Homo sapiens: one gene and its partners. The protein of the gene in region 6 interacts with the protein of the main gene of each other region in a pairwise test. Each region holds a gene or a part of one and is shown on either strand. Other genes may lie near its edges. The genes, in order: DZIP1L, TOB2, CCDC92, CUTC, ZNF653, CEP76 and RBM41.

Region 1 (3,500 bases), on a different chromosome or scaffold from region 6:
CTCTAATCCAGCCCTAACAGGAAGCCTATGCCTCAGGCATTCCTGGGCCCTGTCACCACTACTAGAGCGAGGCTTTGATCTCCCGTAGCTGGCCACAGTGTTTACTCTCTACTGGAAAGAACATGGAGGAGAAAAGGGGTGAATGGCTCCCTTCAACCTCCCACAGTTAACAATTTAATGACAAAACAAGGGGTAAAACTAAACCTTGCTCAAACTCTAGCTTTCTCCTGATATCTCTGCTATCCCACAAAAAAATATCTGAGGCGAAGGAGGACCATCCTTTCCAAGCCAAATAGAGAAAGAGATGTCAAATAAGAAAGCCTAAAGGAAGCTAAAGGGTGTTTCTGGAGCCTTGAGAAATCTGGGCTGGAGAAGGGCTACACCGGTGGTCCCAGCCCACTCACCCAAAGGTGCCAGCTCACCTGAGCCCTGGCCAGGGGGCTGGGCATTCTCCTCCGAGGTCTCTGTGTCAGACCAGTCCCAGTCATCCTTGGGCCGGGGCACCATCCTGGAAGGAACTTTTGGGGGCTGTAGAGACACACGCTGCACACGGTCTCCCTCTGAGTCCTCTTCAGAACTGAACGGGGGCGTGCTGCCACGAGGAGGAGAAGAAATGAGGGATGCATGGGCCAGAAAGAAAACTTCAAAAGCCAAACTTCACCACGCTTCAAGCTGGTTTGGTTTGCTCAGGGCCAGCCCTGCTCCCTCCCTCAGGCCCAGAAGACAGCCAGGAGACCCCTGGAGTGCAGCAGCCACACCAGTATCTCCCTTAGTAGAGCCCTGCCCATCTGAGGATCCAGCCCCTCTGGAGGGGGAACGGGTTTGGGGGAGGACATGGGTAAGGGGAGGGTGGGTTTGTCTTGGCTGGGAGCACAGGTTCTCAAGTCCAGAGCTCAGACTGGACCCCACCTGAGGCACCTTCTATTCACATGTGTCTGCCCCCCTCCTATCTGCAGAAGCCTGGAGGGAGCCCAGAACAGGACTGCCTGAATCCAGGAGCCACCACTGCAGGTGGGGTGAGAGGGCAGAGTCTGGGGCTCACCTCATCCCGGGCCCCGAGGAAGGAGGGGTGCTGGAGGGTCCATGCAGTCCGGGGCGTGGAGCGGGGGCGGACACCTGGGTCAGGCTGGAGCCATGGCTGCCATGGCTCTGACGAGTTGGTGGGGGTGGCTCTGCCGGTGTGGATGGCAAGGCCACCTGCAGGGTCCTGGTCTTTGGCTGGGCCTCTCTGGTGACCAGTGTGCTCTGCTGGCTTTTGACTGGAAACACAGAAAGGAATGATTTTTGGAGTACACCCATGCTGGATCTCAAGCCTAAGAGGAGGGAGAAAGTGGCTCCAACACCCTGGAAATGAACAATTACTCCCTCTCCGTGCTGTAATAACCACAGCAGATTTCATGACTGTTGCCAAATCAGGTGTTCTGCTGGCCAGATTCGAGGCTAGGACCACAGTTCCACAGTTTCATCAGAGACCAGGAGAGCAGCTGGGTGCTCCAGGGTCGTGTTGTCATTACTGAAGACCAGCAGGAGTCCGCGGGCCTGAAGAGGGGCTCAGTAGTCCTAGATGGACTTCACCAAGGCTGCTACCCTCTCCCCAACCCACGCTACAGCCGCTGCACTGCAGGCAGTCCTGCAGGAAGACCCCACTGCCACCAGAGGTCGCCGCAGGACTGCATGAACCATCAAGATCCACTCAAACCTCCTCCCAAATGCAGTCTGGGGCAAGGCAGTACCAAGGCAGGCAATTGGACACAGCCCCTCTGTTTTCCAAATTGCATCAAGACCTATAGCCACAAGAGCGGTCCCGGATCAGCAAGTTTTTATGGGAAGAGAAGAGAGAGAGTGCATCACAGGGAGTCAGACATGTGTGGATTGGGTCACAATGTAAAATGAGTTTCTTACAGTAATTCAAGATCAGAAAATGTTTGAAATACAGTTGACCCCGAAACAACGTGGGGTTGAACAGCCATGGGTCCACTTATACGTGGATTTTCTTCCGACTCTGCCACCCGTGAGACAGCAAGAGCAACCCCTCCTCTTCCTCCTCCTCTTCAGCCTACTCAACACAAAGATAACAAGGATGAAGTCCTTTATGATGATCCACTTCCCCTTAATGAATAGTAAACATATTTGCTCTTCCTTGTGATTTTCTTAATAACATGTTCTTTTCTCTAGCTTACTTTATTGTAATAATACAGCTTATAATTCATATAACATACAAAATGTGTGTTAATAGTCCATATTGTCGGTAAGACTTCTGGTCAACAGTAGGCTATGAGTAGTTAAGTTTTGGGGCAGTCAAAAGTTACACGCAAATTTTCAACTGCATGGGGGGTTTGCGCCCCTGACCCCTGCATTGTTCAAGGGCCAGCTATGCACTGCTCTCAGTGAATGTGTCTACTCAGAAGTGGAGCTTCCAGGAAAGAGTGAACTGAAGAGAAGGGGAAGACAAAGACAAGCCTGCTGGGGGAAAATAACAATAGCTTCCCATGACTGTGTACCAGATACTAAGAAAAGCACTTTACATACAACCACTTGGCCCCCGAGCATCTTCAGAGGCTATCATTTTCCCTACAGAGGCTTGCCCTCAGCTCCACGGAAGAAAGTGGTGAATACAAACCCAGGTTGTCTGTCTGCCCTAATCTTGGGCCCTCACCGCTACTTCCCACAGCCTTGCCCAGGCCACAGAAGAGGCAGGGTCCAAGCAGAAATGGGAGGTGAGCATTAAGACAGCACTTGTGGGACCCAGGAAAAGAATAAAGGTGCAGAGCTGGAAGGAAAGGTCTACAAAATGCCACAAAAACACAGCGCTCATCTCACAACTCAGTAACATCTCCAGAGAAGGCAGAACCCCAGGGCCAGGGAAAGGGAAGGCTGCGAAGGGGGCTCTCCCTCCTGGCTTTTTTACTACAGGAACAAAGGTGTGTGGGAGTGGGTGGGGCGTAGCACCTAGAAGGAGCAAGATACCTTTGCTTTCTCTTGGAAGCCAGCATTCCGAGGGTTTTTCCATTCATCCTCCCCAAGTCCCTGTCCCCTCCCTCCTCTGAGCTCCCACCACCCCCATGCTTGGCTCCATCACATCACCTGGTCCTGGCTGATTTCCCAGGTGAGGTGGAAGGCCCTGGCACAGAGTCAACCTCAGCAAGTACTGTACTAAATGAATGAGTGGGCAAATGAATGAATGAACATTTGACTGAATGAGCAAAAGGATATACGTTTAAATTGGAGCATAAAAGGCAGATTGGCAACCAGGACAAATACCCTTCTGTCTGAGATTTCTATGCAAGATAAAAACCGTCCTTTCCTTAGAGATTTTAAGGCCAGAAGTTTAAACTAAATATTATAGTTTCCCAGGTCATCAATACATTTTTTTACCATATTTTCATGCCAAAATGACAATGCTTTTAAGCACAAAATACCTGCTTGATACTTGTCCAAGTAATAATTTCCATGAGCTCACAGGATTGCTATGTTAGTCTTATTTTCTTCTAATTCACATG
Region 2 (3,808 bases), on a different chromosome or scaffold from region 6:
ATTGTCCAGCCCAAGAAAAGGGTTGAGAATCCAAGCACCGGGCTTTTGGATGGAACCTGGCTTAGGCAAGCTGTTCTCATCCTTGCCCACATCTAAGGATCTAGTACTAAGGATCAAGTACTAGATCTAGAGTAGGCTGGAGGCTGTCCCCGCTCTCCTCCCCCCAGGAATAGACAATTCCTAAAGAGCCATGAAGTACCCCGTTCTCCAGGCTCTGCTGCCACCACCAACTGGCTAAGGGAACTGGAGCGGTTTCTAACTTTGTGGAACCTGTTTCCAGTGTAGAAAAGCATCTGCGGTAGCAAGCACAATGATGTATCCTGTGTTGATGGGATGGATAGGTGGTCAAGAAGGGGCACCAGGACAGTTATGTCCATCCGAGGCTGTCACTGTAAGGAGGACCAATCGTTTCTTGGAGTCTGTAAGGGCTGGGCCACTCCCATTCTCTCCATCCCAAAAGGGACCCCAGAAACCAAGCAAGCCAGGAGCAGGCAGAAGGCTATTATGTATCATGCTTTTAATACAAACTTAAAAAAATCTGGAACAATAGAAACTGTACAGATTTGATCAATCTTTTTGTTTTGTTTTTAAACTAAAATCTCTAAACACACCAATGTCCCATTCCAAAATATTGCACAACATTCTGAATACAAAACCCTTGATTGTATTCCTCCTTCACTAAAGAAAAAAGTTCATGACCCTGCTCCCCGGGCTCCTCTCCAGGCTTGCCTCAATGCCCCCTTCCCATCCCTAGGGAGAAAACTAGAGAATCTATAACTCACTGCATTGAGAAAAACACATCATTCTGGACTAACAGTTTCCATTCTTCAGAAGATAATCCACCTTTTGATTTGTTCCTGGGAAAGAGGGATAGATAGAGGATGGGGAAAGGGGAGAAAAGGTTTTATTTCTCCTCTTTTTTTTTTAAAGTTTGTTTTTCCTGAAAAAATATGTTTCTCTCATCTTTTTAAGAAAAAATCTTGAAAAGAAAAAAATTATGTTTTTTACGTTAGAAATATACATATATTATATACCTCTTACATTTTACAAATGTAGCAAATTATTCAATACAAACGGACACCAAAAAATGTAAAAAATAAAAAAAAGTTTTCCTACGAAACCAGGTAAATTAGTGCAGATTTCTGTTTTTGTATTCTTAAAAAAAATAAAATTGAAGCAAAAATGCCTAGATTTGAGACAAGACAGACTGAACTGGGCCCAAGAGCGCAGCACTGGAGTCATGCTCCTGAACACACATTTTTCTTCGTATTTCAAAAGACACAAAGGGGTTGGTCTCCCCTCTCTCCCTACATGTGAGAAACAAGCCGACCTGGTGTGGGTGGGTGCCTGTGTGTGTGGATGGGAGGAGGGCTAGAAGGGGATGTAAGGCAGCATCCAACCTTTCCCAGAGAGAAGCTATCTGCTGGGTCTGTCACCTGTGTGGGAGCCGAGGATGAGGGAAACAAAGGGTGGCCCAGACTGGGCTGGCCCCTGAGAAGTCTAGGGGAACAGATGGTGCTGGGCTGAGAAGCCAGGACATTGCCTGCCGGGGGAGGTAGAGCTGGTGCCTACTGCAGGGAGAGGAGGCTGGCAGTGCTGGCCTGGGCTGGACCCACTGCCATAACAGTTGCCTACTTGGGGTCCCTGGGTAGGATGGAGTGGGTGGGGTGCCAGGGGCTTTGGTGCTTTCTGGTGATTGGGACCCTGATGCCAAGTGCCCACTTTGCAAAGAAGAAAAAGTTAATGACCCTGCTCCCTTGGCTCCTGTCCATGCTTGCCTGGCCTCCTAGAGTTGGAGGAACAAGCCCTCTCCTGGCAGAGGCAGGAGAGCAAGTGCTCTCCTATGATCCAATACATCAGGCGGGAGTGCTGAGTCCGTCAGGACACCACTCCTCGCAGCATCAAGGTCCAGTGGGGTTGGGTCAGGGCAGTGAGAAGGGGTGGCAAGAGGTACCAAGAAGCTCTCAACCAGGCAGGGGCACAAATGCACTCAACACCTCCAAACTAAGAGACCCCAAAGTCTCAACTCCAGGCTCAGGGCTGCCCCCGCACAGACACTAACTCTAAAATCCCACCCTGCCTCTCTGCCCACCCCCAAGGGTGCTCAGGTGAGCAGCTCCCTCTGGGCTAAGGCCAAACAACAGGAGGGTTGAAGTCCAGGGACTTCTCATAGGCATCAGGGGCTTGGGTATTCCCTCTGCCCTTCAGAGCTAACTTATTATTATTTTTTTGGTCAAAAACAAAACTGCAGATCCTTCCACAGTCTGCAAACCAGTTCCTTCTGCAGTGTTTTCCTCTGGGAGTGTCTTGGGCTAAGCCACAGCGGTGTCACCCCACCACACACACTGCCCTGCAAAAGGACTGCCAATACCCCCAGCCCATTCCCCAGCCTCACATATAAATAAGGACTTGCGACCCAGAATCACATCCAGAAGGGAAGTTTCACATGGCTTGGAATCCTTTAAAAAAGGACAGCAAACCAAATACACACACACACACCCCTCCCTACCCACAACATCCAGCCTGGGGAAGAAGGGGCTGCATGAGGGAAAGAAAGCCCATACACATCAATGGCCAGGGCCATGATGATGGTCTGGGCCTAGAGGGAATGGTGGGGTGGGGCCATAGGACAGAGATGAAAGGAGTTTCACTAGACGAAGTGCTAATCTCCCTGTAGTCACAGACATCAGCTCCAGGGGGAGGGTGTCAAGTGGCCAGCCAGCAACTCCCTGTGGCCCAGCCTGAAAGGGAGTGGGGACTGGGGTCAGACCTATTCAGGTGGCAGGGCCCGAGAAGGCCTGCTGAGGTTGGATGGCTTTGAGTGCGAGGATAGCTGGGTGACAGAGGCAGTGACACGGGCCAGCCTCTCCCTGTTCCAGGGAGGGTCAGGCTCCAGCTGCAGCTCTTTCTTCCCTATGAGCTTGGACACATCAATCCTAAACTAGGAGTGTGAAGGAGGAAGGGAGGAGCAGGGAGCAGCAGTTCACATCTGGACCATTCTTAGCACAGGAAGCCACTCATTAAAGATGTTATATAGAAAACTACATGTAAGAAAAAAAAAAAAGAAAAAGAAATATAAAACCCAAACCAACCAAATAAATCACAGGCCGGTGGGCGAGCGGTAAGGGGTGAGTGAAACACACTTGGGTGCTTTGCAGGGCCCTCCCATTCCGTGCCTGGGCTGGATCTTTTTTCTAGAAGTAAGAGTGAGAAGATCGAAAATCTTTTTGTACATTTTTCTTTTCCTCTTTTTTTTGGCCTTTCCTTTCTCTTTTCTGTGGTCTTGGGTGCTCCTGGCCCCACGGGCAGGTAGATGGTCAGTTGGCCAGCACCACGGGCTGGAACTGCTGGCTGGGATACTGCATGGTGTTCAGGTTGTAGCTGAGGCCTTCCACAAAGGGTGTCTTCTCCAGGAAGAGGCTGTTGGCACCACCTCCAAATACCTGGGCCATGTCAAAGCTGCTGCTGTTGCAGGTGCCAGCCCCACTGCCTCCAAACGGGCCTGGGGTGCCGCTGCCCTGGCCATCGGCCGCATCAAAGAAGAGGCTGGGTGAGCCACCACCGTTGTACACGAACTCCTTGGCATTGGGTGAGAGCTGGGACTGAGGGGCCGGGTTGGCCGTGATGAAGTTCAGTGAATGCATAGACAGAGAGAGGCTCTTGTGCTTCAGCAGGCTGTTGGTGGGTGAGCGGGCCATGCGAGGCTGCTGTGGTGGCTGCTGGCCACCCGCCCCACTGCTGGCTACACCCCCACCACTTGCTGCCCCGCCCCCCTTCTTCATCTTAGTGGAGCCAAATTTGGTGGCAG
Region 3 (3,927 bases), on a different chromosome or scaffold from region 6:
ATGCAAAGCACGACTAAGAATCATCTTCGATAGCAGGTGGGTCTTTAATCTACTAAAAAATCTTCCTAGGGTTCATGTAGGTGTCTGCGGATGTTGCTACGTCCACAACTCTAGAAGCCAGCATAAGAAAACAAAAAACAAAAGCCACAGTGCTAAAAGGGAAGTACAGAAGTCCTCGAATATAGTTGCCATCGGAATACCCAGGAGTCCCTCTCAGAAAGACCCTCCTATACCTCTGTGATACCTCCTAATAGCCATTCACGCCAAGTGGGGAACCAGCTGATCCCAAAAGCCCCTAGGGAAGGAGCAGCCCCTTCTTTCCACCGCTAGTTCTCACCATAAACAACTTTTGCCTTCATATAGAAGTGAAATCTGTTTTTCTGTACTCAATAATTACTCAAAATAAATGAAATCCCTTGCTGCATGACAGACCTTCAAATATTTGAAGACAATTAGGACACAGCCACTTCCGTGCCCAAATCCTTCTGCAGGTTGAAACATCAAAGCTGAAGATGTGGAAACTGGTGTCATTAAGTTAGCACCTACCTAGCCGGGATGAAACTTCAATCTGACTCAAACATTTACTGCAACATTGGTGTGTGAAGATACAAAGTCACCTAGTCACTGCCCTTGAAGGACATGGAATTCAGTAAATTCAGTAGATATAATTAATCTTAGTTACCAAATGTGTGCCCACTATGTATTAGAAACTATTTATGGCTGACCTTGTTCCAGATAGAAGGAAAAAAGTTCCATGACTTTTCTTGCCAGAAATACGAGAAAATGCTTTTTTAACATAAGTATTTTTTAAAAGCATCAACATTTTATTAACGTTAGTATCGTTGCAAAGGCATCCTACCAATTAGGTAATTATGTTGAGATCAATTTATCCAAAGATAATTGGATAAGTTGAGATCAATTTATCCAATTTTGCAATTTATCCAACATGGCAGATGAAAGAGTTATAAACCCAAGATGAATGATTCGTTTTTTAAAGAGTTAATAAAAATATCTAATTTCAAAAAAACCCTATTTGTTAGACCGATGTATTTAAAATGTGTCACAGTAAAAATCTCACACAAATAATTGTCCTGTACTTTAGATCTTAAATGTACCTAAACTAAATTTACTGAGTAATTATAATACGCAGAGGAGTAACAAAACTATTTTAAGATTTTTCAGTGGTGTGTATGGATATGTACGCATACCCGTATATATAATCACGAGTTTTAAAGCCTTCTTCCAAGCATATTTCACATAAGATGAACAGTTAGCCAAAAGAATTACATACATTTCAAAACATCTTTGGAGGTAAAAGCCACTTTAAACGTTAGCATCTTTTTCCTTACAATGCAATAGCGAGAAAATGCATGGGAATTCTTGATGAGCAAAAAAAAAAAAAAAGAAAAGTCGTTTTATCAATACCAATGCTCTTTAAATAAATTTCAAACGTAAAAGTTTTAAAATGGCAATCCTAGTTTTAATACTCTTACAGGTTTCTGGAACTGCGTAATATGTTAAAGTATTACAGCGTGGTAGCTTGCATTTTGTTATAAAACCGACTACTGCAACCTAAGCTACAGAGCGCGGTTATATTTTCTCTCTGGCAGCCTAATTTTCCTTAGTGGACTAGATCGTACTGCTAAATACCAAAACTTGAAATGAAACAATACAGGTCAGCATGAAAACCTAAGTTAGAGAAACTCACTCGCCGTAGCAGACGGCAGCCCAGTAGCCAAGCCTGGAGCTCTGCTGCGTTTGTGCATTCTGCTCCGTTTCACGAATCACAGGCAAATCGTTACTCAGAGTAAACTAAAGCCGCATCAAAGCTTCAGGAAGGGGCTGGCAAGGTAGTGTACTTACGGAAAGGCTACCAGGACGGGAGGCGATACAACTTGTCAGGGAGGGTCTCTAAGGTTCCCCGGGTGGTAACAAGCATTTAAAAAGGCGATGTGGATTCAGACGGCCTCCTCCCCACAGCATCCCAGACAAAGCCGGGCTAGGCCCCGGGGCGCTCCTGGTGCACCTGCAATGCGGATCCCTCGCCCTGCGATCCCACCCCGGGGCAGACAGGAGCGCCCCGGGACCGGCCTCTCCTCCCCCTTGGCACTGGGGTGGGCGCGCGCCGCGGCCGGTCCGCACCCTGGACTGGAGCCCGGGCCGGGGAGCCCCCTCCCCAGAAAGGGCCGGCAGACCCCGCGGGGGCGGGCGCGGGGGTCGCCGAGCCTCAGGGACCCTCTTTCCCCGACTCCGCCGTCTCCCGAGTTGCCTTCGCCCGGGGCCACCCCTGCCCCTGGGGGAGCTAACGTGGCTCCCAAGCCCCGGAGGTGGGGCAGGAGGACCCCGTCCCCCGTCTCCCGGCGGGGAGGGTTTTTAAAGTCTTCGCCACGAACTCCCGTCCCTGCCCGGCCCCTCCGCCCCTGCCCGGCCCCTCCGCCCCCGCCGGCGCTGCCAGGTGAGCGGGGCCGGACTCGACACACCCCGGGCCCCGCCTCACCTGCGGGCGCCGCCGTCGCGTTCCTTCAGGCGGCTGCCCTCTTAGGCTCGGTCCTCCCGGCGGGCGGCGGTGGGGGCCCGTGGCCCATGGGCTGGGCGGGGCGCGGCGGGCGGGGCTGCCTGGGCTCGGGCGCTGCCCGGGCCGGGCCGCCGAGGGAGGTCAGTGGGCACCGCCCGCCCGGCGCATCTCGCCCGCTCCCACCCCAGCGCTAGCCGCGGTGCACCCTGGGAGCGGGGCCGGCGGCGAGGCCTGGCCGCGCTGACCCGGCGGGCTAGGCGCCGGCGCGGCGGCGGGCCTGTGTCTGCCGGGCTGGGCGGGGGCGGCGGGCCGATATTCACTTGGCGAGGCGGGGCTACGCCCCCTTCCGCCCGGCTGTGGCGGGGCAGGGGCGAAGGCCGAGGGGAAGGGAGGGTCGGGCCCGCGGGACGCAGGCGCACAGCTCAGGTGCGGCCGCACTGCGGTTGCCCTGGGTAACGCGGCCCGAGGGAGGGGGGGGCGCGGGGAGGAGCGAGGGAGGCGAGCGGGAGCGCGCGCGCCGGGCGCTGGGGTGGGGGATGGCCGGGCCCGACCGGGCCGGGGCTGGGGGGCGGGGGCGGAGGCGGGCGGTGGGGGCGCGGGCCGGGTGGCCGCGCATGCGTGCGGCCCCCGCTCCCCCGGGGCTTCCCCGGCCTCGTGCGTGCGCACGCGCGCTGTCCCCCGGAGGCGTCTGGGTGTGCGGAGCGCGCGCGCGCGCGGCTCGGAGGCGCACCTGTGAGGTGTCCCTGAGGAGAGGGAGGTGGGTGCGCGGCGCCCGCGGCCTGGGGCGCTGACTCCCCTCACTTGGAGTGAGTTCTCGGCGGCCGGGCTGCAGTCTTTCTTTCTTTCCCGGAGGGAGGCGGGGGCCGGGGGCCAGGGAGCGGGCTGGGGGTGGGAAGGAGGTGGAGTGGCTTAAAGAAAAGAAAAACAACCCATCCCGGAGGATGGGCCTCGGGATGGCGGGGAAGGTCAGAGCGGCTCCGCGCAGCCTGGCGGGTCCCGGGCTGAGAAGCCGCCCCTCGGGCCTCGGGCGGTCGGCCGCGGGCCCGCAGTGCGGGGGAGCGGGGCCGGGGGGCGCAGATGGCGGCCGGTGCGAGCGAGGGCTGGGCAGCGGGCAGGGCGAGGCCGGGCGAGGCCCCTCGGGAGCCGGACTCCCGAGCCAGGCTCCATTGTTGTTGGAGCCGAGGGAAGGGGGAGCGCTGCCGCCCTCGTCGCCCGTGGAGCCGCGTCTTGGAGCCCTTCCAGGCGGGTCCCGGGAGAGGCGGTCATGGCCGCGCCAGGGGACCGGGGAGCCGGGCGGCTGCGGAGGAGCCGGCTGCATGGGGTGCTGTGTGTTTTTCAGGGCGCCCTGCGTCCGGCAGAGGAGGCGAGCATCCCGCTCAGGTGATGAGGAACCCCTCGCGCACCCAGCGCAG
Region 4 (3,500 bases), on a different chromosome or scaffold from region 6:
GGTCTGTGTTTAAACCCTGGCTTTGACCCTTACTAATAGTGACCATGGATACATTACCTAGCCATCCTAAACCTCAGCTTTGCTCTTCTGCAAAGTTAGGATAATAATAGCACCTACCTCCTAGAATAGTTGTGAGGGATTTCTTCAGGTTATAGCACTTAGTAATTGTTCTATATTATTAAATCTGACATTTAGTGACTGCTCTATATTATTAAATCACTTTGATAGCCTTAGATAAGCATATACTTCTAAATAATCTTGTATGGAAGGCGAAAAGAAATGGTAGAATTCATTTCTTTAAAAATATTATTTCTCTATGTTTTGGAAAGCCTTGATTTGGAAGAAACAGGCAAATATGACTTTTTTCCATTCTGAAGTGATTTCAGCTTTTTAGATAGTCAATGTTTTGTTTTATGGATGCTTTGTTCAGGCCATTTGAGAATATGAAGCATCCTTGTTCCATTTATTTCCCTAACAATTTTTAAATTATTTGAAATAGCCACTCCCCTCTTTCACTCTCTTGTTAACTTTATTTTTTGCTTTATTTATTCACTTGCTTTATTTTTTCTTTGTTATACTTATTGCTACCTGGAATTTTATTGTATAAATATCCCTGTGCATTGTCTCGTCTTTCTTGAATGTGTAAGCTCCATGAGAGCAGGAACTTTCTCTTACTCACCATGTCAGGGAGGAAAAACTTTTCTTCTATCCTCAGGGTTTGTTATTGGGGGCCTGCAAATTAAACTGACTAAAGACAGATTAGCAGGAGTAAAAAGAGATTTTATCACATAAGTACATATATATGTAAGTACATACAGAAGTTCACAAAGAAATATGACTTAGAATTGGGGGCTTATATACCATCTTAATAGGTGAAGGGGAAGGAGAAAATGGCACTTATTGGGGGGGAAAATGACTTTTTGGAAAGATAATTTTCTAGAGACAAATTTACTATGCTGGACATCTTACTTGTCCAAGATCCCAAAGAAATAGAGAAGATCTAGTAAAAATTAAACATTAATAGTAATTTTTAAAATTTAATATATTCTGACTTATGTTTCTATTCTCACTGCCTTATTATCCCATTCAAGAGAAAGATATTAAAATTCACTTGTTTTTTTTTTTCTTTTTTCAGGCAAAAGGCAGGATTGTGGTAATGCCAGGTATTTATTTATCTATCAATTCACTAGCATAACACTGAACTATAGTGGAGGAAGAGCAAAGGAGGCAGGAAAATGTGAGAGAGAGTATTAGTACATTACATATTAGTACATGATCTTTAAAGAGAAGAATATATAGTTTGATTAAAATGTTTAAAACTGGGAGATCTGTGCTAGAATTTAAAAGTTTAGATAAGAAGGAAAATATTGTAATAGGCATTAGCTCAAAGAGGAGCAAATAAGGAAGCAGATAGAGATTGAGGTTTCTCCATATTTGCTCTCCCATTATATAGAACTTTATGAATTCAGATGTTCATCTCTGGTGAGGCACATCAAATTTGATGCTAATCATATTTTGTTTAGGACAAATGTCCTAATAAACAGGGTTTAAGCAAAGGTTTAGGCAACATCCTTGGGTAAAATATAATACTGTCTCAGTTCCTGAAAATCTCTGATTGCCAAATTATTTCTTGTAACCAGAATTTAATCATATGATCCTGATGATAACCATAAGATCAGTTAAGTTCATAATGGCTAACTAGAAATGAACAGTTGGAGCAGTTTTTAAAGAATTAGATAATACAACATAGAAGAGTGAGACAAATGTAAAGACAATCTTAATTTTTTTAATTAAGTTTCTCAAACATATAAAAAAGTAGAAAATAGCATAATGAATACTCATATGCTCATTCCCTAGATTTAACATTTTGCCAAATTTGTCTCATCTTTTTTCTATCCTGAGGTATTTTATTAAAGTTAAATTGAAAGCATCATGGCATTTTATCTTTATTTATCTCTAAAAAGGGTGGGATGTTACCATAATGACAATTCCATTATCACATCTATCACAATAAACATTTAATACTCAACTTTCTCCAATTGTCCCCACAATGGTTTTTATAGCTGATATGTTCAAACTAGGATCCAGTCAAGGAACAAGCATTACATTTTTGGTTATCTTTTGTTTGTTTGTTTGTTTTTAGAGATGAGGTCTTGCTATATTGGCCAGGCTGGACTTGAACTCTTAGCCTCAAGCGATCCTCCTGCCTCAGCCACCCAAGTAGCTGGGACTACAGTTGCACGCTGCCATGCCCAGTTCTATTATCTTTTAAAATATCTTTAATATAGATGTTTTTCCTTTTATTTTTCTTGCTTTAAAAAAAAGTTACATTATTAAGTTTGGGCTGGGCCCAGTGGCTCACGCCTGTAATCCCAGCACTTTGGGAGTCTGAGGCAGCCAGATCACCTGAGGTCAAGAGTTCGAGACCAGCCTGGCCAACATGGTGAAATCCTGTCTCTACTAAAAATACAAAAATTAGCCGGCCATGGTGGCATGTGCCTGTAATCCCAGCTACTTGGGAGGCTGAGGCATGAGCATCACTTGAACCAAGGAGGCGGAGGTTGCAGTGTGCTGAGATTGCACCACTGCACTCCAGCCTGGGTGACACAGCAAGACTCCGTCTCAAAATAAAATAAAAGTTTGGATCACTTACCCTGTAAAATGTCCTACTTTCTGGATTTATCAGATTATTTCCTCATGATATTGTTTAGCTTGTTCCTCGTGCCTCTGTATATCCTATAAACTAATAGTTAAATCATGAGGTTTGAATAGACTCTGCTTAAATATTTTTGGTCAGAATACTTCATGGGTGATTCTGCATACTTACATCATATGACATCACATCAGAAGGTATTCAGTCTCTGGTCATCTCACTACTAGTGATGTCAAGACTGACCAGCGTTCAAAATAGTGACACCTAGATAAAGAGTAACTTTTAAAAAGAGGCCGTGAACCTGGGCAATATAGTAAGACACCATCTTTACCAAAACGTAAAAAAATTAGTTGGGCATGGTGGCGTGCTCCTGACGTCCCAGCTACTCTAGAGGCTGAGGTGGGAGGATTTCTTGAGCCCGAGGTCAAGGCTGCAGTGAGCTATGATCGCACCACTGCACTGCAGCCTGGGCAACAGAGTGAGACCCTGTGTCAAAAGAAAAAAAAAAAAAGGCCATATAAGGGGTATTGTCAGATATTTAGGAAGGCTTTGACCTATAACAAGCCCTTGAAACATAAGCAGAGAGAAAGTATATATTATCTGTCAAATTGTGGTCCTTTTTGGTTAATCAAGGAATGTTAAAGAGACTCTGAGTGTGATGCTTTTCCATTTAGCACTAAATATATATAGTTTTGACAAGTAATACTTAGACAATTGTTGACATTAAGAGTACCTTTGTTTAATATGCAATTGTTATCAGCTGTGTGCAAGGCATTACTTGGGATGCAAAGCTACACAAGAAACTACGTTCTCAAGAAGCTGACTCAGGTCAAAAGATGTTACATAC
Region 5 (3,500 bases), on a different chromosome or scaffold from region 6:
TGGATGTCAAGCCTTGGTTAGGTGACTGTGAGTTAATCAAACGGGAACATATCTTGTAGGGCACAGTGGCTCAAGCCTGTAGTCCCAGCTACTTGAGAGGCTGAGAGTGGTCTTGGCCCACAGCCAGCAAGACAGTGGGTACTGTCTGGGTGTGGTGTCTCACACCTGTAATTCTAGCACTTTGGGAGGCTGAGGCAGGAGGACTGCTTGAAGCCAGGGGTTCAAGACCAGCCTGGGCAACATAGCAAGATCCCACCTCTATTTATACAATTAAAAAAAAAAAAAAAAAAGGCCAGGCTCCGTGGCTCATTCCTGTAATCTCAGCACGTTAGGAGGTTAAGACGGGTGCATCGCTTGAGGCCAGAAGTTGGAGACCAGCCTGGGAAACACAGTGAAACCCCATCTCCACAAAAAATACAGAAATTACCCAGGCGGGGTGGCATGCACCTGTAGTCCCAGCTACTCAGGAGGTTAAGGTGGGAGGATCACCTGAGCCTGGGGAGGTCAAGGCTGCAGTGAGCTATGATCACACCACTGCACTCCAACCTGGGCAACAGAGTAAAACCGTGTCTCAAAAACAAAGAAACAAACAAAAACAAACAAAAAACGATCTTCGTCATGGTACAGCCCTGTCACTTAATCATCAATAAGCAAATGGTACAATGATCGTTATGATTATCAGTATCATCGTGGAGCCTGGGCCCCCTGGCCTCCCTGCTGTGGCCCAGACCTGCTCTTGCCACAAACATCCTGACAGCCAGTCTAGTGTCTCTTATCAGCAAAACTGTCCACCCCGTCTGACTCCTGCCCAGCCCTGTAACAATTCTCAGTCCCACACCCGTCTGGTTCCCAGGACTGCACCTTGGGGATCTTCCATCTTTCCTGCCCCAGGCTCTGCCCCTGCCTCTGGCTCTGCTACTCCAGGTCCCATTCCATGTGACTCTATCCCTTCCCATGGCTCCACCCTCCCCTGCAAAGCACCACACTGGCTGTAGAGACCTTCACCCAACCCAAGACCCAAGTCTGGCTCTGTCACCCAGGTTGGAGTGGAGTAGCACTATCTCAGTTCACTGCAACCTCTGCCTCCTGGGTTCAAGCGATTCTTCTGCCTCAGCCTCCTGAGTAGCTGGGATTATAGATGCCTGCCATCAGCCCAGCTAATTTTTCTATTTTTAGTAGAGACAGGATTTCGCTATGTTGGCCAGACTGGTCTCGAACTCCTGACCTCAAGTGATCTGCCTGCCTCAGCCTCCCAAAGTGCTGGGATTACAAGTGTAAGCCACCATGCCCTGCCCCAAACCCAAGTCCTGATGTCCACAGCCACCTCCATCCACTCACCGCTGGAGGCTGGGAGTGTCACATTGCAGTGGGGACAGTCTTGGGTATCAGCCAGACCCAAGTTCAAGACTCAGCTCTGCTCTCAACTGCCTGTGTGACCTCAAGCAGGTCTTGTCCCCTCTGAGCCTCAGTCTCCGTCTGTGAAGTGGAAATAGTAGTAGTGCTTCTGACACAGGGTCACCATGGGGACCAAACAAGGTCATATGTAACCTGGTGAGCGCCACTTTCCAACCCCCACACAGGGCTTTCTCCCTCAAACTGCCTTCCCTCTCCTGTCCACTTCTCCAACTTCTGCCACTTCTCTGTGACTCCCAGCAGAGGCCACTGGCATCAAGGACCACAGCTCCGGGGCTACTCAGGCCCTGGCTTGGCTGTTTCCCGCCATTTCCTTTCAGTCTTCAGTCATTCCCACCAGCATCTAAATATGCCATGATTTCTCCCATCTTGGGTTAAAATCATTTTGATACCCACCTTCCCCACCAGCCCCTTCCCCATATCTTTTTTTTTTTTTTTCTTTTTGAGACAGGCTCTCGTGGTGTTGCCCCAGCTGGAGTGCAGTGGCGCCATCACAGCTCACTGAAGCTTCGACCTCCAGGGCTCAACCGATCCTCTTGCCTCAGCCTCCTGAGTAGCTGGGACCACAGGCATGCACCACCACACCCGGCTAACTTTTGTACTTTTTGTAGAGATCGAGTTTCGCCATGTTGCCCAAGCTGGTCTCAAACTCCTGGGCTCAAGAGATCCTTCTGCTTCAGCCTCCCAAAGTGCTGGGATTACAGGTGTGAGCCACTAGCACCCAGCCTCCTTCTTCATTTCCCCGTTTTGTCACAGTTGTCTACACTCGCTGTCTCCATGTCCTCTCCTCCATCTCACTGGAACTCCTCCAGTCAGAGCTTTGCTCCATCACGTCACACACTCTCCCATCACAGTCACCAGTGACGGCTTCACTCGGCCCAACAGCACTGGACATGGCAGACACTTCCTTTGGCCTCCTGGGTGCTGCCACTGCCCAGTGCTCCACTGGCACCGGGCTGCTGCTTCTCCCTCACCTCCCTTACCAAGGAGAGCAACCGCCACACTCAGGCCTGTGTTTTCTGTCTAAAAGTATCCCTTTAGTAACTTTTTTTTTTCTTTTGAGATAGAGCCTCGCTCTGTTGCCCAGGCTGGAGTGCGGTGGCACGATCTTGGCTCACTGCAAACTCTGCCTCCTGGGTTCAAGTGATTCTCCTGCCTCAGCCTCCTGCGTAGCTGGGACTATAGGCGTGTGCCACCACGCCCAGCTAATTTTTGTATTTTTAGTAGAGACGGGGTTTCAATATGCTGGCCAGGCTGGTCTCGAACTCCTTACTTCGTGATTTGCTCACCTTGGCCTCCCAAAGTGCTGGGATTATAGGCGTGAGCCATCGCGCCTGGCCTATTTTTATTTTACTTTTTGAGACAGTCTTGCTCTATTGCCCAGGCTGGAGTACAGTGGCGCGATCTCGGCTCACTGCAACCTCCACCTCCCGGGTTCCAGTGATTCTCCTGCCTCAGCCTCCCAAGCAGCTGCGACTACAGGCGTGCGCCACCATGCCCGGCTAATTTTTGCATTTTTAGTAGAGACAGGGTTTTGGCCTATTGGTCAGGCTGGTCTCAAATTCCTGACCTCAAGAGATCCACCTGCCTTGGCCTCCCAAAGTGCTGGGATTACAGGCGTGAGCTACCATGCCTGGTCTTCCTTTTTTTTATTTTAATTGTTGACAAGAGTCATGAACCTCCTTGGACTCATCATCAGCTTTAACAATTGTTAACTCTTGGCCAACCTTGTATCACAATGTGTACCCCATCCATTCTTCAAGCCACACACATCCTAGAGACAGTTTCTTCTAAAATACAAACCAGGCTGTGTGTGACTTGTAGTCCCAGCTACTCTGGAGGCTGAGGTGGGAGGATCTCTTGAGTCCAGGAGTTCAAGACCAGCCTGGGCAATATAGCAAGACTGCATCTCAAAAATAAATAAACAAATAAATAAGGAAATAAAAGGCCAGGCCCAGGCCCGGGTATGGTTTCATCTTTACATTTAAATCTGCAACCCCGCCGGGCGCAGTGGCTCACACCTGTAATCCCAGCACTTTGGGAGGCCGAGGCAGGCAGACCTCTTGAGGTCAGGAGTTCGAGACCAG
Region 6 (3,500 bases):
GGCAGGGGGATCACCTGAGGTCAAGAGTTCGAGACTAACCTGACCAACATGGTGAAACCCCGTCTCTGCTAAAAATACAAAAATTAGCTGGGCATGGGAGCACGTGCCTGTAGTCCCAGCTACTCGGGAGGCTAAGCCAGGAGAATTGCTTGAACCCGGGAGGCGGAGGCTGCAGTGAGCCGTCCAGCCTGAGCAACAAGGGCGAAACTCCATCTCCAAGAAAAAAAAATAAAAATAAAAAAAGTTTGCCTCAGATAACATAATTAAAATAATTTGGTTATGCATTTTTAGGCACAACTAACCAAAACATTATTAGGCATGATTATCAACCAGGGAGAAAGAGGACTCGGGAATGAAAAGAGGGCCCAGGGCTGGGCCTCTAGAACACACACATTTAAAGACAAGATGAAGGAAAAACTAAGAACAGCCAGAGAGGAATAATAAATATTGAAAGACAATGATAAAAAAGAAGCTAAGGAAAGAGAATGTTCCATGAAGAAAGAAGTGAGACAGCCAGGTGGAAAGGGGTCCCCAGAGAAACTCCAACCAGCCTGTGCACTGGGAGGAGTGCACACTGGGGAGAAGCCACAGAAGTTCGAGCAATTTGCAGTGGGGAGGAGCTTGGCCCCTCCTCTTCCTGAGTGGAAGCTGGAATTCAATCTGCGAGGCAGGAAGCACACTAGCAGGCAGGAAGCACACTAGCAGGCACGAAGCACACTAGCAGGCACTCTGGCTTTGTGGAGCGTCCGTTTCCCAGTGTTTTTCCTTTTTGTTCAATAAATTCCATTTTTCTCCCCCTTCAAATTGCCTGCGAGCCTAATTTTTCGTGGCCATGTGACAAGGACTCAGCTCTTAGCTGAACTAAGGAAGAAGTCCTACAACAGAAGTACTCAGCTGTTTCAAAATCTAATGACAGGCTAAAGTACTTTAAAAAATGTGTCCAGTGGATTTGCCAACGTGGAGATGGTAACCACATCAAATTTTAAAAAGAAATCATCATTTACAACTTGAACTTATTTTCAGACTTAGGTATGATCATCAGAAAAAAACATATGCCAGCCAGGTGTGGTGGCTCATGCCTATAATCTCAGCACTTTGGAAGGCCGTGGCAGGTAGACTGCTTGAGCCCAGGAGTTCAAGACCAGCCTAGACAACACAGCAAAAGCTCATCCCTACAAAAAAATTAGCTAGGCATGGCTGTGCACACCTGCAGTCCCAGCTACGCAAGAGGCTGAGGTAGGAGGACCACCAGAACCCAGGAGGGGGAGGCTGCAGTGGGCTGTGACTGTGCCACTGCACTCCAGCCTGAGCAACAGAATGAGACACTGCAAAAAAAAAAAAAGAGAAAACTGAAAAAAAAATATGCTAATCATACAAAACTAGTAAACATAATTTACTGTTTACCAACATCATGTTGGTAAAGAATATTTGAGGTAAAAGTTTTCTTAGAGTTCATTTACTTGGCTGCCATAATTGAAGTACTTTTTTACATAATCACTGAAAAGGCTCTAACTAAAATCATCAACACGTACCTTCAAGTACCATCAATATGGACAAAAAACCCTTATAATTTAAAATACTTATAACTTAAGCCGGACACAGTGGCTCACGCCTGTAATCCCAGCACTTTGGGAGGCTGAGGTAGGTGGATCACCTAAGGTCAGGAGTTCGAGACCAGCCTGGCTAACATGGTGAAAACTTGTCTCTACTAAAAATACAAAAATCAGCCAGGTGCGGTGGCACATGCCTGTAATCCCAGCTACTTGGGAGGCTGAGACAGGAGAATCGGCTTGAACCTGGGAGGTGGAGGTTGCAGTGAGCTGAGATTGTGCCAGTGCACTCCAGCCTGGGCGACAGAGCGAGACTCCATCTCAAAAAAAAAAAAAAAAAAAAACTTATAACTTCATTTTAATATCCTTATAAACTTAGTAAACTAACCTGTGTCCTGTTAAACTCTCCCAAAAAGTGATGGCCCCATCAGTTCCACAAGTCATAACCCATGCATGAGGTACTCCTTTTGCCTTGGTCCCAACACAAACAAAGGCTTCTAATCCATATCCAAGAAGAAGGCTGCACAGAAGGTTAGCGTGATCTTCACAGTCACCCTGGAAGATAAATTAAAATGAAGTATTCATTCTTCCATATTATTTCCTCATTACATACTTAAATACTAAATTATAATAAAAATTTATTGGCTGGGCACAGTGGCTCACGCCTGTAATCCCAACACTTTGGGAGGCCAAGGCGGGTGGATCACATGACGTCAGGAGTTCAAGACCAGCCTGGCCAACATAAGGAAACTCTGTCTCTACTAAAAATACAAAAATTAGCCGGGTGTGGTAGCACACACCATTAGTCCCAGCTACTCAGGAGGCGAGGCAAGAGAATCACGTGAACTTGGGAGGCGGAGGTTGCAGTGAGCTACAATCGCGCCACTGCATTCCAGCCTCAGCAACAGAGTAAGACTCTGTTTCCAAAAAAAAAAAAAAATGTTTATAAAGAACTCACACAACACAGAAAGAAAAGTAGAACATTTTTTTTTTTTTTTTTTTTTGAGACAGGGTCTTCCTCTGTCACCCAGGCTGGTGACATGATTCATAGCAGCCTTGACCTCCTGGGCTTAAGTGATTTCCCCATCTCAGCCTCCCAAGTAGCTGGGACTAAAGGTGTGCACCATGACACCTAGCTAATTTTAAAATTTTTTTTGTATAAACAGGGGTCTTACTGTGTTACCCAGGCTGCTCTTGAACTCCTGGGCTCAAGTGATCCTCCTGCCTCAGCCTCCCAAAGTGTTGGGATTACAGGCATGAGCTCCTGTGCCCAGCCTGGAATATTTTAATAGATTAATAGCTGAAGTACATGAACAAACAAGCAAACAAGTCATACAGCAAGAAATGCAAATAAATGGAAAACACTCAACCAATGACTGATAGTATCTATATGTGATAATTTCAAGAAAATACATACATAAGAAAAATGACTGGCAAGAACAACAACAAAATGCCAACAATGGTTATTACTGGGGAGGTTATATATAATTTTCCACTCTTTTTCCAGATTTTCTTTGGTTATATTACTTTCAATTTTAAAAAGTTATAAAGACCTATAAAAAAATAGAAAATATTAGCTGGGTATGGTGGTGTGTGCCTGTAATCCCAGCTACTCAGGAGGCTGAGGCAGGAGAATCGCTTGAACCTGGGAGGCAGAGATTGCAGTGAGCTGAGATCGTGCCACTGCACTCCAGCCTGGACAACAGAGTGAGACTCTGTCTCTAAAAAAAAAAAGAAAAAAAGAAAAGAAAATATCTGATACTGTGTTCTGTGAAAAAAATTACCAAGATATTAAACACTATGGTTACAATTTCGTATTTAAGTGTAGGAAGACTACACGCGAAAGCAAAAATAACTATTTGAGTTGAGTGTCCGAATGAAGAAATTTCTTTTTTTTTTCCTCTCTTTTGAGATAGGGTCTAGTTCTGACACCCAGGCTGGAGTGCAGTG
Region 7 (3,500 bases), on a different chromosome or scaffold from region 6:
ACATTGCTCTGAATAACAGGATTTCAATATTTTTATGGCTGAATAGTATTCCACTGTGTATATATACCACATCGTTGGGCACCTAGGTTAACTTCATATCTTGGCTGTTGTGAATAGTGCTGCAATAAATATGAGAATGCCATTGTCTTTTCAATATACTGATTTCCTTTCCTTTGGATAAATTCTCAGTAGTGGGATTGCTGGATCGTATGGTAGTTCTATTTGTAGTTTGTTGAGGAACCTCCGTACTGTTTCCCATAGTGGCTGTAAAAGTTTACAGTCCCACCAACAGTCTGTAATAATTTGCTTTTCTCCACATCCTCACCAGCATTTGTTAACTTTTGTCTTTCCAGTAGTAGCCATCCTAACTGGAATGAGATGATGCCTCATTGTGGTTTTGATTTGCATTTTCCTGATGATTAGTGATGTTGAGTATTTTTTCATATATTTGTTGGCAATTTGTATGTCTTCTTTAGAGAAATAGCTGTTTAGATCATTTGCCCATTTTTAAATCAGGTTGTTTGTTTTGATGCTGTTAAGATGTTGAATTCCTTGTATAGTCTGGATATTAATCCCCTGTTGGGTGAGTAGTTTGCAAATATTTTCTCCCATTCTGTAGTTCGTCTTTTCACTCTGTTGTTTCCTTTGATGTGCAGAAGATTTTAGTTTAATATAATCCCGTTTGTTTATTTTTGCTTTCGTTGCCTGTGCTTTTGAGGTCTTATTCATGAAATCTTTTCCCAGACCAGTGTCCTGAAATGTTTCCCCTATGTTTTTTCCTAGTAGTTTTTTAGTTTCCGGTCTTACGTTTAGGTCTTTGATCTGTTTTGAGTTGATTTTTGTATAGGATGAGAGATGGGGGTCTGGTTTCATTCTTCATGCATATAGGTATCCAGTTTTCTCAGCACCACTTATTGACGAGACTGTCTTTTCCCAACTGATGTTCTTGGTGTCTTTATTAAAATATTAGTTGGCTGTAGATACATGGGTCAGTTTCTGAGTTCCCTATTCTGTTCCACAGTTACATGTGTCTCTTTTTATGTCAGTACCATGCTGTTTTGGTTACTACAGTTTTGTAGTACATTTTGAAGTCTGGTAGTGCAGTTCCTCCAGCTTTGTTATTTTTGTTCAGGATTGCTGTGGCTTCAGAGTCTTTTGTGGTTTCATAAAAATTTTAAGATTTTTTTTCTTTTTCTATGAAGAGTGTCATTGGTATTTTGATAGGGATTGCATTAATTCTGTAGGTTGCTTTGGATAGTATGGTCATTTTAACAATGTTCTTTCAGTCCATGAGCATGGAATATCTTTCTGTTTGTATCCTCTAAACTTTTCTTTCATCAGTGTTTTGTAGTTTTTCTTGTAGAGGCCTTTTACCTCCTTGGTTAATTTATTTCTAGGTATTTTATTTTGCTTTTTGTAGCTATTGTAAATGAGATTGCTTTCTTGATTTCTTTTTCAGCTAGTTTGCTGTTCGTGTGTAGAAACGCTACTGATTTTTGTGTGTTGATTTTGTATCCTGCAACTGTATGGAATTTGTGTATCTGTTCTAAGGGCTTTTTGGTAGACTCTTTCAGGTTTTTTTTTAGGTTTTTCTCTATATAAGATCATGTTGTCTGCAAACAGGGACAATTTGACTTCCTCCTTTTTGCTTTGGATGCCTTTTATGTCTTTCCTTTGTCTAATTGCTCTGGCTAAGACTTTCACTACTGTGTTGAATAAGAGTGGTGAGAGTGAGCATTGTTGTCTTTTGCCAGTTCTTAGAGGAAAAGCTTTCAGCTTTTCCCCATTCTACTGATGTCTAATTTTTTGTTGTTGTTGAGTCTTTAGCGTTTTCTACATGGATGATCATTTCAACTGTGAACAGAGATAATTTTACTTCTTTCTTTCTGATTTGGATGCATTTTATTTCTGTTTCTTGCCTATTTGCTATGGCTAGAACTTCCAGTACTATGTTGAATAGAAGTGAGAGTAGGTATCCATGCCTTGTTCCTGATCTTAGAGGAAAAGCTTTCAGTTTTTTAATACTGAATATTATAGCTGTGGACTTTACATATATGGCCTTTATTATGTTGAGGTAAATTCCTTCTATTAGTAGTTGAGTGTCTTCATCATGAAACAGTGTTGAATTTTGTCAAATGCTTTGTCTGCAACTGTTGAGATAATCATGTAATTTTTATATTTTGTTCTGTTAATGTGTTGTATTACATTGATCAATTTTTGTATGTTGAATCATCCTTGCATCCCAGGGATAAATCTCCCTTAGTCAAGGTGTATGAGCTTTTTAATGTGCTGTTGAATTTGGTTTGGTAATATTTTGTTGAGGATTTTTACATCTGTTTATTAAGGATATTGGTCTGTATTTTTCTTATAATGTTTTTGTCTAGGTTGGTCTCAGGGTAATCCTGGCCTCATAGAATAGCTAGCATATAGTTGGATTTTGTTTATCCATTCAGGTACTCTGTCTCTTGGGGAGTTTATTAATATTTAATGTAATTATTGCTAGCAAAGGACTTACTATTGCCATTTGTTAATTGTTTTCTGTCTCTGTTGTAGCTCTTTTGTCTCTCCCTCTCTGCCGTCTTCCTTTGTGGTTCATTGGGTTTTTTTTTTTTTTTGTAGTGATATACTTTGATATCTTTCCCATTTTTCTCTGTTTATCTTTTATAGGTATAGGGCATGGTAAAACAATCTGTTTTAAGCTGATAACATCTTACGTTCAATCACATATAAGAGCTCATTTTTGTTCTGTTGAATTTTTTTTTTTTTTTGAGACAGGGTCTCACTCTGTTGCCCAGGCTGGAGTGTGGTGGTGTAGTGTGATCATAGTTCACTACAGCCTCAAACTCCTGAGCTCCAGTAATCCTCCTGCCTCAGCCTCCCAAATAGCTGGGACTTGTAAAATTGGCCAGTTGTGGTGGTGCATGCTGTTTGCTCACAAGTAGCACATGCCACCCTGTCTCTTTTGCAGAGACAGGGTCTCACTGTGTTGCCCAGACTGATCTCAAACTCCTGGACTCAAGCGATCCTCTCATCTCAGCCTCCCAAAGCACTGGGATTACAGGAGTGAGCCACCGCACCTACCCTCCCGTGCCGCCTAATAGGTAGAATAATTTCTCTTATTTTCCTGAGGATATTAGTTATGGTTTGTTGAAGTTTTTTCCTATTTCCTTTCTTTTCTTTATGTTTGTTGTGTTCTCTCTTTCACATTAGAGGAGTTCCTAAGATGCCTGATAATCCATGCCCAACTTTATAAGTAGGAACTAAAAAGCAGATTGGAATCTCTGAGCACACAAATGGCACTTGTTGACTTTGAGCTTCACTTTAAAGTGGTCTGGCTGGGTCATTTGTTAGAGAAATTCCTCATCCCAAGTCAGTATTTTTATATCTTTCCTCCTAGGACTTACCAGTTTTCCCAGAGAAGACTTCCAAAATCTTTCTTACGAGGGTACTACCAGCGTTCTAGGAGCCAAATGGCAGAAAAGGACTGGGAGGACCTCAAC

What was found.
Region 1: the proteins of CEP76 (region 6) and DZIP1L interact in binary tests that used the Homo sapiens proteins (3 or more experiments, as listed by UniProt).
Region 2: the proteins of CEP76 (region 6) and TOB2 interact in binary tests that used the Homo sapiens proteins (3 or more experiments, as listed by UniProt).
Region 3: the proteins of CEP76 (region 6) and CCDC92 interact in binary tests that used the Homo sapiens proteins (3 or more experiments, as listed by UniProt).
Region 4: the proteins of CEP76 (region 6) and CUTC interact in binary tests that used the Homo sapiens proteins (3 or more experiments, as listed by UniProt).
Region 5: the proteins of CEP76 (region 6) and ZNF653 interact in binary tests that used the Homo sapiens proteins (3 or more experiments, as listed by UniProt).
Region 7: the proteins of CEP76 (region 6) and RBM41 interact in binary tests that used the Homo sapiens proteins (3 or more experiments, as listed by UniProt).

What each region holds. Positions count from the first base shown.
Region 1 is NC_000003.12:138,067,109-138,070,608, forward strand, and holds part of DZIP1L (cilium assembly protein DZIP1L), read right to left. Parts: intron 3,489-3,500; coding exon of another isoform or gene 3,457-3,488; exon of another isoform or gene 2,057-3,456; coding exon of another isoform or gene 2,052-2,056; exon of another isoform or gene 1,266-2,051; intron 1,260-1,265; coding exon 1,043-1,259; intron 593-1,042; coding exon 423-592; intron 1-422. UniProt on the Homo sapiens protein: Involved in primary cilium formation. Probably acts as a transition zone protein required for localization of PKD1/PC1 and PKD2/PC2 to the ciliary membrane.
Region 2 is NC_000022.11:41,432,994-41,436,801, forward strand, and holds the end of TOB2 (protein Tob2), read right to left. Parts: coding exon 3,318-3,808; 3' UTR 501-3,317; downstream 1-500. UniProt on the Homo sapiens protein: Anti-proliferative protein inhibits cell cycle progression from the G0/G1 to S phases.
Region 3 is NC_000012.12:123,970,032-123,973,958, forward strand, and holds the start of CCDC92 (coiled-coil domain-containing protein 92), read right to left. Parts: upstream 2,801-3,927; 5' UTR 2,498-2,800; exon of another isoform or gene 1,709-2,497; intron 1,389-1,708; exon of another isoform or gene 1-1,388.
Region 4 is NC_000010.11:99,749,234-99,752,733, forward strand, and holds part of CUTC (copper homeostasis protein cutC homolog), read left to right. Parts: intron 1-1,135; coding exon 1,136-1,163; intron 1,164-3,500. UniProt on the Homo sapiens protein: May play a role in copper homeostasis. Can bind one Cu(1+) per subunit.
Region 5 is NC_000019.10:11,499,340-11,502,839, forward strand, and holds part of ZNF653 (zinc finger protein 653), read right to left. Parts: intron 1-3,500. UniProt on the Homo sapiens protein: Transcriptional repressor. May repress NR5A1, PPARG, NR1H3, NR4A2, ESR1 and NR3C1 transcriptional activity.
Region 6 is NC_000018.10:12,678,724-12,682,223, forward strand, and holds part of CEP76 (centrosomal protein of 76 kDa), read right to left. Parts: intron 2,106-3,500; coding exon 1,939-2,105; intron 1-1,938. UniProt on the Homo sapiens protein: Centrosomal protein involved in regulation of centriole duplication. Required to limit centriole duplication to once per cell cycle by preventing centriole reduplication.
Region 7 is NC_000023.11:107,070,323-107,073,822, reverse strand, and holds part of RBM41 (RNA-binding protein 41), read left to right. Parts: intron 1-3,397; coding exon of another isoform or gene 3,398-3,500. UniProt on the Homo sapiens protein: May bind RNA.